Regions from separate parts of the Homo sapiens genome. Here region 2 is linked to region 1. A link means that fine-mapping ties the variant in region 1 to the expression of a gene that starts in the linked region. Tissue or cell type: regulatory T cells. Region 1 holds a variant in brackets; the other region holds the start of a gene. All regions are shown on one strand. Distances are from middle to middle.

Region 1 (5,000 bases):
AAGCAAGTTACTAAGATGATGAATTTTAGCTAAATTTTGAAAAGATTAGAAAGGTGGGAGAATTTTTTCTCTATTTAGCTTCCATTGTTTTAAAAGTGGAATTATTTTATTTTCACTGAATAAGTATTTATTTCTTGGTTATAATGAGCTTTCTTCTCTTTTAAATTCCAGCACAAATCTTTTACACAGTGCCATGATTATAGATGAGACACCTTTGACTAGAAGGTGTTTAGCCCAATCCTTGGCCCAGCAGTTTTTTGGTTGTTTCATATCTAGAATGTCTTGGTGAGTGACCTGAAAGTTCATACTACTGAGAAGAGAATCAAGTTTATTTTTCTTTTCTTTCTCTGCATTTAAGCTGACCTTTGCCCTAATTGCAGATAGCTAATTTAAGAGACACTGTTCTATATGTATTTAAAGAAAAATGATTATAAGTTTCATCCTAACTTTTTGGCCATGAAATCAATATAGTCACTTATATTTATTAGTTAATTAAATTAGCTAATTTAAAAGACACTGTTCTATATGTATTTAAAGAAAAATGATTATAAGTTTTATCCTAACTTTTTGGCCGTGAAATCAATATAATCACTTCTGCAGTTTATAAGGTAAGATTTTGGTAAAACAGTGTCTTAAAGAACTGAATGAATTCTATAAATAAAAGAACTTAAATGTACAGAAATCTGAAGTTAGAATTTTAATGTCAGTGTTCAAAGCAATTGGAAATAACTCAATATTTAATGTAAAATAGTACTCCTCTGCAATATTAATAATTATTTAGGGATTTGCCTACTAGTGCTCAGCTTTGTACCAGTTTGTTGAAAGAAATGAAAGGTATATATGCTTTTTCTTTTCTTTTTTATTAACTTGAGATTATTTTGAAGAAAACAGAAAAATTAAGATTATAATTGTGAACATTCTATACTATATATAGTATGGAAATGTTGGTTTTCTTTTTTCGCTTGCTGGAGTGGAGAGGAGAGGGCAGAGACTAAAGATAGATCTCTTGATTTGTAGTTTTCCTAAAATCACATGTAGAAGTTTCATTAAAGAATAGTGCTTGGAATGTAGTAGGCAAAATATTATGGATGGATGGATGGATGGAGTGGGTAGATGGATAGATGGATGAGTATACAAATGAATAAATGAGTGAGTGATGTTAATTGCCATTTTTCTAGAGAAAGCAAAAAAAAATGAATGAAGGAATTAAACTTTAGGTTTTAGAATATCATTGGTAATGGCATAATGCATGGGATTGGCAATAATAGCATGTAGACTTTTAGAATTGAACAGTATAGTCCTGGCTATGAGCAAGTATTTCCTTAGAGGCAGAGACAGTAAGAACAGAGTTGGGCAGGAGGGAAGCAGCACTGTCAGAGTAGAGCATGTACTCTGGTAATTTATACCTGAAGCAAGACTGTAAAGCAGTCTCATAATGAAAGGTAAAGGCAGGTGTGAATAAGGTATAATAAATGGGCAAGTAGAACTCAGAGGAAGTTGGGAAACCTGATAATTTGTTAATAATTTTCATTTTCTTTATGAAGGCAGGGAAATACACACTACACTTATTCCGTTATCCTCTTTGACATTATCTGAGGAGTTTTTATGATTAAAAGTAATTTATGCTTTGACTTTTTGCTTAGGTCTGATGAATGGGTGCTGAAGGGAATTTCAGGCTATATCTATGGACTTTGGATGAAAAAAACTTTTGGTGTTAATGAGTACCGCCATTGGATTAAAGAGGTAATAACAGCTAGATCCCTTATCCACTTACAAGTCTTATGTCCTCCATTTTTAATGACTGTAAAATACTTTTAAAATACTGCTTGAAAATCCCTAATTTTTCCCAGCAAAATGGGAATTGATTTACTGAGAAAGACTAATGGTCTATTTTATCTAATCTCCATTGTCAACATTGGCCCCTAAAAACCTTTTTTTCCCCTAAGGAAGAGAATATTTAAGTTTCTTAAACATCAGATTGGTCGTTAGGTATGTCCCAGCTCCTTATAGTAGTCGTTTGTAACTGTGCTTCCTAAATTTGTTAGCTTTGTAACCTTAATCTTTCCAAGTCTCTGTTTAAGGAGGGCAATTGTAGTGTCTGCCCATAGGCAGAGATTATTAGACATTATACAAGTAATGTGCATGATGCTTTGCACATATTAACTGCTTATTATATTCTGGCTAGGCTTTGAATGCATTTATGTTGTCATTGTCACATCTTTTTTTTTTTTTT[A/TA]ACGATTTAAAGATTTGGCCAAAAAGAAAACATCAGTTGTATTTTACTTAGCACATTGTGGTCATATACATAAACATTTTAATCATATCATGCTTAGTGTCTTCCTTCTCAGGTGGAAGAATTGCAGCCTTTCATATCTTCATTAAACAAACCTTATCATCTTCCCCGTATTCTCATTTTACATATTATTATCATCCAAGAGTAAACTCAAGTAAGCCAAAAAGTTAATTTTCGAAGACTTCAAACACCTAGAGCTATTAAGGTATTTGTACATCTAGAACTGGAGTCTCTTCTTTATTTCAGAAACTATTAAAGAAGAAGAACAAAGTAACACAACACTTAAAATATTTCACGCACTGTTACAAATGTTTTATAAATATTAAAATGATCTTAATTCTCCTAACTACCTTGCTATCATTCCCATTTTATAGATGAAGAAACTGAGGAACAGAAAGAAAGGTTAAATTATTTGGTCAAAGTATACAGCTAGTAAGTAGTAGGCCCAGGATTCCAGCTTGGCTTTTAGTTTCTTCTCTATGCTGTTTGCCACTTTTCTGTACTACATCTGTATTATTTAAAGCAGTTAGGAGTTTCCAGCACAATTGTGGTAGTGTCTTTATTTTAACTTATGCTTTTTTTTTTTTTTGAGACGGAGTCTCACTCTGTTGCTCAGGCTGTAGTGCAGTGGCGCAATCTCGGCTCACTGCAACCTCTGCCTCCCGGGCTTAAGCGATTCTTCCACCTTAGCCTCCTGAGAGCTGGGATTACAGGCACCCGCCATCACGCCCGGCTAATTTTTTGTATTTTTAGTAGAGACGGGATTTCACCATGTTGGCCAGGATGGTCTCGAACTTCTGACCTCGTGATCCACTTGCCTCAGCCTCCCAAAGTGCTGGGATTACAGATGTGAGCCACTGCGCCCGTCTTCACTTATGCTTTTTTTCTTTTAATTAACCAGGCACGGTGGCATGTGCCTGTAGTTCCAGCTTCTTGGGCTGAGGTGGGAGGATCACCTAAGCCCAGGAAGTCAAGGCTGCAGTAAGCCATAATCAGCTACTGAACTCCAGCCTGGGTGACAGAGTAAAACCCTGTCTCAAAACAAAACAAAACAACTGCCCCCAACCCCCCCTTTTTTTTTCTGTTTAAAAAAAAAAATCCCCCTTTTTAAAAGTTCAATTTATGTCATGTTAGAGAAGACTGGAGAAGTTTTAAAATGATAGATTCCTGACATAATTTATTCCCATTCCTTTTTACTCGCCTAAATTTTTTGAAGCAAAATACAGAGAAGGAAAAATAAACTTGGAGACAGCTCAGAGAGATTGAGAACAGCCATAAGAAAAAGTTGCCAGGCTGCTGTCCAGCCCTGAAGTCATAAAGTAGAGAAGTCTTTGGCTTTTGTCATTCTGCCAGCTGTGTAGGCTGCTTTATTTATAAGAACATAAACTACTCTTTAAATACATTTCACTTATTTTAAGAAATTTACATTCTGATTTTAGGAAATGAGAATTCACAGTTTAATTCTAAAATTTGGTATGTAAAAAAATGTTACTTTACAAATTTTACTGACTCCTATTTTTATATATTTTTTAGGAGCTAGACAAAATAGTGGCATATGAACTAAAAACTGGTGGGGTTTTACTACATCCCATATTTGGTGGAGGAAAAGAGAAGGATAAGTATGTTTATTGTTCAGAGATGATATTATAAACCTTGACTATATATAACAATTATTCCATTTAAGAGCTAAATAGTATTTCATTGTACCTCAGAATTTATTTAACCTTTTTCTTATTGCTATTCTTTGCTAAAGCTTACAGACTCATAAAGCTCATAAGATTGGAAGTAATAAGTAAAATATAAAAATAATTTTTAAAATATCAGATTGATTATAAAGTATCTGAAGTTTTAATGTGCCACATTAAAAATTTTTTTTTAATTTTTTTTAAATGGGGTCTCACATTGTTACCCAGGCTGATCTCAAACTCTTGGGCTCAAGCAATCCTCCTGCCTTAACCAATATGCCACATTTTGAAGGAGATGCATAATACCACTTGCCATAGTTTGTTTATTCTACTATACCAAAGTACCACAGACTGGGTAATAATGTAAACAGTAGAAATTTACTTCTTGTTCTGGAGGCTGGGAAGTTCAAGACTGAGGCACTGGGAGGATTGGTGTCTGGTGAGGGCTGCTCTCTGCACCTAGTTGGCACCTAGTTGCTGCATCCTCCAGCGGGAAAGAATGTGTCCTCACAAGGTGGAAGGGATGGCAGGGCAAGAGAACGCTCCCTTCAACCTGGAGCCTTTCTATGAGGGCGCTAATCCCATTCATGAGGGTAGATCCCTGATGATTTAATCACTTCCCAAAGGCCACCTCTTAAGACTGTTGCGTTGGGGTTTAAGTTTCAACATGAATTTTGGAGGGGGCACCATCATTCAAACAAACTATAGCACCACTCATACACTGTGAGAGTGTAGTTTGATACAGTGTTTCTGATGGGTAATTTAGTGTGGTACTAATCAGAATTGTAGAATGGGTAATTTTTAGATCCAGCAATTCTTCTAGGTATGTGATCATGTAGAAATTCTTCTGGCCCAGCGCGGGGGCTCATGCCTGTAATCCCAGCACTTTGGGACGCTGGGCAGGTGGATCACCAGAGTTCAGGAGTTTGAGACCAGCCTACCAACATGGCAAAACCACATCTCTACCAAAAAATACAAAAATTAGCCAGGCGTGGTGGTGGGTGCCTGGTCCCAACTACTTGAGA
Region 2 (5,469 bases), 62 kb before region 1:
ACCCCATCTCTACAAAAAAATACAAAAATTAGCCAGGCATGGTGGTTCCCGTGCCTGTAGTCCCAGCTACTTAGGAGGCTGAGGTGAAAAGATAGCTTGAGCCTGGGAGGCAGAAGTTACAGTGAGCTGAGATGGAGCCACTGCACTCAAGCCTGGGCAACAGAGTGAGACCCTGTCTGAAAAGAAAGAAAGAAAAAGAAAAGAAATAAAATAAGGAAAGAAAGAAAAAAAAATCTGGGATGGGGTAGCGGTGAGGTGATCTTATCAAAGAAATCATATAATAAAACTTCCCAGAACTGAAGAATAATATAAGTTTCCATATTGAGAGAGCCTGGCACAGACCTGAAGAGAACTATGAAGAAACAATTAGCAACTCCAGCCTACTGCTGCTATCCAGAAATATGAGTCCCATGTTGATAGATATCCTGATTTTTTTTAAAAGACGAAAAACGAAAATGTTAATGAAAACTTTTCTAATTTATATGTGGGCTGGGCACGGTGACTCACACCTGTAATCCCAGCACTTTAGGAGGCCAAGGTGGGCAGATCACCATCACCTGAGGTCAGGAGTTCGGGACCAGCCTGGCCAACATGGCGAAAACCCGTCTTTACTAAACGTACAAACATTAGCTGGGCATGGGGGCACACACCTGTAATTCCAGCTACTCGGGAGGCTGAGGCATGAGAATCGCTTGAACCCAGAAGGCAGAAGTGAGCCGAGATCGTGCCACTGCACTCCAGCCTGGGTGACAGAGCAAGACTCCATTTCAAATAATAATAATAATAATAATAATAATAATAATAATAATAATGTGTAAATGATGGCTGAAATTAAACATGCCTGGCCACACAAGCACGAAAGTAGGGAAGGACGGGGCCATCTGTAGGTTTGGCTATCATGTGTGTGAAGAGTACTCAGGGCCGTGGAGTCTGGAAAGGCAGAACGGACACAAAGCACAGAAAACCAGAAACCAGCAGAGGTTTGAGTATGAGCTTTGACAGGAGAGGGAGTGGTTGATGATGACCTGTGAGCATAGTGTAATGTCACTAGAGAACTTCATGTTCAGAAAATTAATCTGACTGTGGTATACAGATGGAGGGGCAGTGGGAAGGGGGATGAAAAGCAGGAAAATCTGTTAGAAAGTCACAGTAATAAGAATAAGGACCGAAAGCAAGGCCACATTTTCAGTTTTTGGAATGTCTGGAAGTGACTGTGTTCCTTTTTTTTTTTTTTTTTTTTGAGACAAGAGTCTCACTCTGGAGTGCAGTGGCATGATCTCCGCTCACTTCAACCTCCGCCTCCTGGGTTCAAGCGATTGTCCTGTCTCAGCCTCCAGAGTAGCTGGGATTACAGGCGCCTGCCACCATGCCCGGCTAATTTTTTTGTACTTTTAGTAGAGACGGGGTTTCGCCATGTTGGCCAGGCTGGTCTCGAACTCCTGACCTCAGGTGATCTGCCCACCTTGGCCTCCCAAAGTGTCGGCATTACAGGCGTGAGCCACTGCACCTGGCCGTCACTGTGCTCTTTATTGAATAAAAAAGAAGAGAAGAGAGGAAAAGAAAAGGAAAAAAGTTCATACATGATTCTATAATATGAACTAAGATTTAGTAAATAAAATTCTCATTTCATGCCATGAAACACAATATATGAGCAATATAATCAAGAGTACAGTGTCCAAGAGAACAGAATCAATTTTAGCTGATTCTGTTCTCATGAACAGAACTTTTGAAATTTATTATAACTGTTCATTTTTTTACCTGATAAAGAATATTTTTTTCCTGCTACCAGATGAATGATTAAGCCAGCTTCAATCGTTTTTTGAAAAGGTACAGAAAATTTCTTACTTTAGAAAAACATATTAACATAATTTTAAAGAATGAATTAATAAAAACTATCATCATTTTGTCTTATGAGAGGAACACAGGTCCAGCTCCCTGACAGAATATCAAATTAATGGCAATAATTTCATACCATTAATTGGAAATTAAATTCATAATGATTAATACATAAAAACAAAAAGAACTGCTGCCATTTATTAAGCAGCCATGCATTTTAGAATGTACATCTTAAGAATGTAGGTCTTATGTGCTTTTTTATCGATAAGGAAGTTGTACTCAGAGAAATTAGGTAAATTGCCTTAGGTCACAAAGTTCTGAAGAGAGTTGGGATTCGCAGCCATGCCTGTCTGATGTAAATGTCAGGGTTCTAGTTGACACTGCTTCTAGTTGTAGGGAATGTTTCCCATTTAATAGAGCAACTACAATGGTTGATTCCCTTCAATAATAACTTCTTATCAGGCAACCACTGTCACATTCAGGATTTCATTCCACCGAATTCCTATGCATTCAAATGTAAAAGAGGCTAGTGAAGAAGTAGGTCACATGAACCAATCTTTCCACCACCAACGAAAGCACTGCCCAGACTCCTGGGATGCCCTACTCTGGTATTTTCGTATCATTTTACCCAAGAATTGAAAAAAATGTCTGCTCAGATCCTTTGAATTCAACACCTTACCCACCACTTTCTTTCACTTCAAGCAAGGTCTGATTTGCACTAACTAGTAGGAGGTCACCATCTCTTAAGTGATTCCTCCCAGACTATTTTAGCTCTCAGGGACAGCCAGGGCCCTCAACGATTCCCTAAGCATCTCTGGGAAAGTTTACACATTACGCTGTTACAAGCAATTCATGTATGTGTGCATAGTGAAAACCTTTTCTCTTAAAACTCTTAATACTGAAGTTCCCCAAACCTTTGGAAAATGTACAAGTCACAGATGCTCCTGTGACTTGTTTTTCCCTTCGGGTGCGTCCTCAACCTTGCTTAAATAAACCTCTATTGAACGAGACCTGCATCAGTCACTTTTCGGTTAACACTAGGTATTCAACGAATAGACTAGTCCCGCCGTTGTCTCCAGATATGATGGTGCCCTGACCCAAAGAAGCGAGATACTCCTTCCCAGGGCCTCGCTCCCGAGCATGGGTTATTTGCACAAAACCCCGCAGGAAGCTTTTAGAGCCACAGTCGGCTAGGCTGGAGTCAGACTCTGTTACCTCCTGACTCTGCCATCACGAGCAAGGAGCCTGCTTCCTCATTGGCAAAAGGGAATGACCAAGGCACCACCTTACAGGGTTGTGGCAACGGGCTCATGGAATTATACATGCCAAGTGGTTATCACAGGGCCCGCCACTGGCGGAAGGTGAGACAATGTGGACGGCGAGGAAATGGGAGCATCGGCTGGAAACCAGGGACGGAGATCGGGGATGGGGGGCGGGCAAGGGGACAGCGGAAAGGGTGGGCGAGGGATCCGTGTCCCAACCCGCCGAGTCGCAGCTCTGCCCCTGCGAGCTTCCGCCGAGACCGCCCCCCGGGAAGCCGCGTTTCCTTCCTGCAGTCGCGGTCCGGCGTGGGGCACGGAGGGGCTCGCGCTCCCAGAAGCCGGCAGGCCTTCCCGCGGGCGGGCCCGCAGCGCGCTCCGCCCCGGAAACACGCCCATGGCCGCCTTGGCGCGCTTTCAAACGCTCAGGTTTCCTACCTTCCGGCTGCTTGGGAACTTCTTTCTTGCCCGCCAAGCCCGCAGCCACCCGGGCGCGGCGGGACTCCTAGACCCGGCGCTGCGATGAAGAGGACCCGCGACGAGGTGGATGCGACGCTGCAGATCGCCAAGCTGAATGCGGCCGAGCTGCTGCCGGCGGTGCACTGCCTGGGCTTCGGCCCTGGGGCCAGCGGCGCTGCAGCCGGCGACTTCTGCCTGCTGGAGCTGGAGCCCACGCTGTGCCAGCAGCTGGAGGATGGACACAGGTGAGCCCTGGTCACGCGGCGCCCCCAGCCTCTGGCCGGCCACGTTATTTTCTCAGCGGGGAAAGTCGGGATAAGAAAACAGGGCCAGAGAGATGCACTGACCTGGCCGGGGGCTCATAGCAAGCTGCCTGTTCCCGAGGAGTCCACGCCTCCGGTGGGCCGTCCAGTTAGCTGCACTGCGGTGATGAGTAGCACTGGTCCAGCTGACCTTGGAGGCATGTGTCAGCGGGAGCAAGTCAGGAAATACTAATACAACCTCCGTGAAGTTTTTGAAGAGTTACCGGTGATTACAGGGACTCTACAGGACACCTGTCACTCTACCTTAAAATACAGTGGTGATACCCAATGTTTATAGAACTCTTGCCTTCCACTTATATTTATTTTACTCAGATGATAGATAGGAAGTGCTGGGAATCAGCTTACAGACTTGGTAATTGGGTGAGACCCCTACCCACCCCGAAGCAAACTTGCTTAGTAGGGATCTGAAGCTGTTTCTAATTCCAGGTCAGATACAAACTTGCTGCAAGATCATTGATTAGAAGTCGAAGTTGAGGTAGTTTTTTAAAGGCAGTCTTGAGAAGTCTAGAGAATCGTTATATCCCTCCACCCTGTGCAGCCCCAGCTCCTGCAAAATAGGGAGCTCCAGCTTGATTCTCTTTTGCACAATTGGTCCTCCGACACCTATATTTTATTAGGCTATTTTTTCTCTTTTTTCTTAATGGAATCCTTTAGGCTGTCTTTCAGTTTTCGTACTTTGCCCACCAAAGAGTGTTAGAGTAAACTGGCCATTCTTCAGATACCTGCTATATACCTCAAAGTACCTTTAAGGGAACTGAAAGAACTTCACTAGTCTGTTTCCATCCCGGTTCAGTTGGTGGAGAGTTGAGAAAGGAACTCAGGTGTGAGGACTTTCTCTCGGTCCAGTTCTAGTTAATCTAGCTGGCAAAAACAAAACAAAACAAAAACAAAAAAATAAAAACAGGCCCTGGAAACGTGTGTTTTTAATTTTGGGGTGTAGGGAGTGATGGTATAAACAAAATATTTCAAAGTGGGGGTAGTGCAGTTAGAGAAATAAATGTTAAAGACTAGGTACTTGGGCCTATTAAGCATTATTAGCATTAGGAATCTAAAAAACCTTTTATTCTTTTTACTTAAATGAAGACTTAGTCAAAAATAAATACACAGTCTGCTATTTCAGGTTTCTTATTATTTATTCAAAAGAAACGAGTTGTGCACAGGAGAATTAAATGCTTTACAGACAAGGAAAACTGCTAGAACCAACTCCCCTGTCATTGCCATCATCTTTGTCTTTAATCCTTCCTTTTCCTCCGCTTCACCTTCATCCTTTCCTCTTCCTTCTTTTTTCTTTATCTTTTTTTTGGGGAGAGAGTGGTGGGAACAGGGTCTCACTCTGTCAGCCAGGCTGGAGTGCAGTGGCACAATCACGGCTCTCTGCATGATGGTGCCATGACTACTTGGGGTCAGGCGATCCTCCCACCAGCCTCCTGAGTAGCTGAGACTTAAGGTGTGCATCATCACACCCAGCTAACTTTTAAATTTTTCTTTTGTAGTGATGGGGTCTTGCTATGTTTCTCAGGCTGGTCTCAAACTCCTGCTCTCGAGCGATCTTCTGGCCTCAGCCTCCTAAAGTGCTAGGATTACAGGCATGA

Which allele goes with the higher level. Positions count from the first base shown, and alleles are read on the strand shown. Sizes are in standard deviations (SD) of each study's normalised expression.
In carriers of allele TA in region 1, the expression in regulatory T cells of the gene that starts at base 3,519 in region 2 tends to be higher than with A alone (moderate effect, 0.71 SD a copy in Bossini-Castillo 2019).

The links. PIP is the estimated chance that this variant, and not a neighbour inherited with it, causes the effect.
Region 2: it holds the start of DSCC1, and the variant in region 1 is fine-mapped to the expression of DSCC1 in regulatory T cells (Bossini-Castillo 2019, PIP 0.92).

The regions. Positions count from the first base shown.
Region 1 is chr8:119,792,275-119,797,274 of GRCh38, reverse strand. It overlaps TAF2 (TATA-box binding protein associated factor 2), which reads left to right. Exons shown (of 26, transcript NM_003184.4): 8 at 172-285; 9 at 1,644-1,743; 10 at 3,824-3,909. Among named protein-coding and RNA genes, the nearest start is that of TAF2, 38 kb to the left of the region's middle. The variant A/TA (reference allele first, on the strand shown) is at 2,234.
Region 2 is chr8:119,853,944-119,859,412 of GRCh38, reverse strand. It overlaps DSCC1 (DNA replication and sister chromatid cohesion 1), which reads left to right and starts at 3,519. Exons shown (of 9, transcript NM_024094.3): 1 at 3,519-3,799. The coding sequence starts at 3,618. It overlaps LOC105375728 (a long non-coding RNA gene), which reads right to left. Exons shown (of 4, transcript XR_928590.3): 2 at 4,611-4,738; 3 at 3,534-4,007. RefSeq lists a silencer at 3,368-3,427 and an enhancer at 3,538-3,847.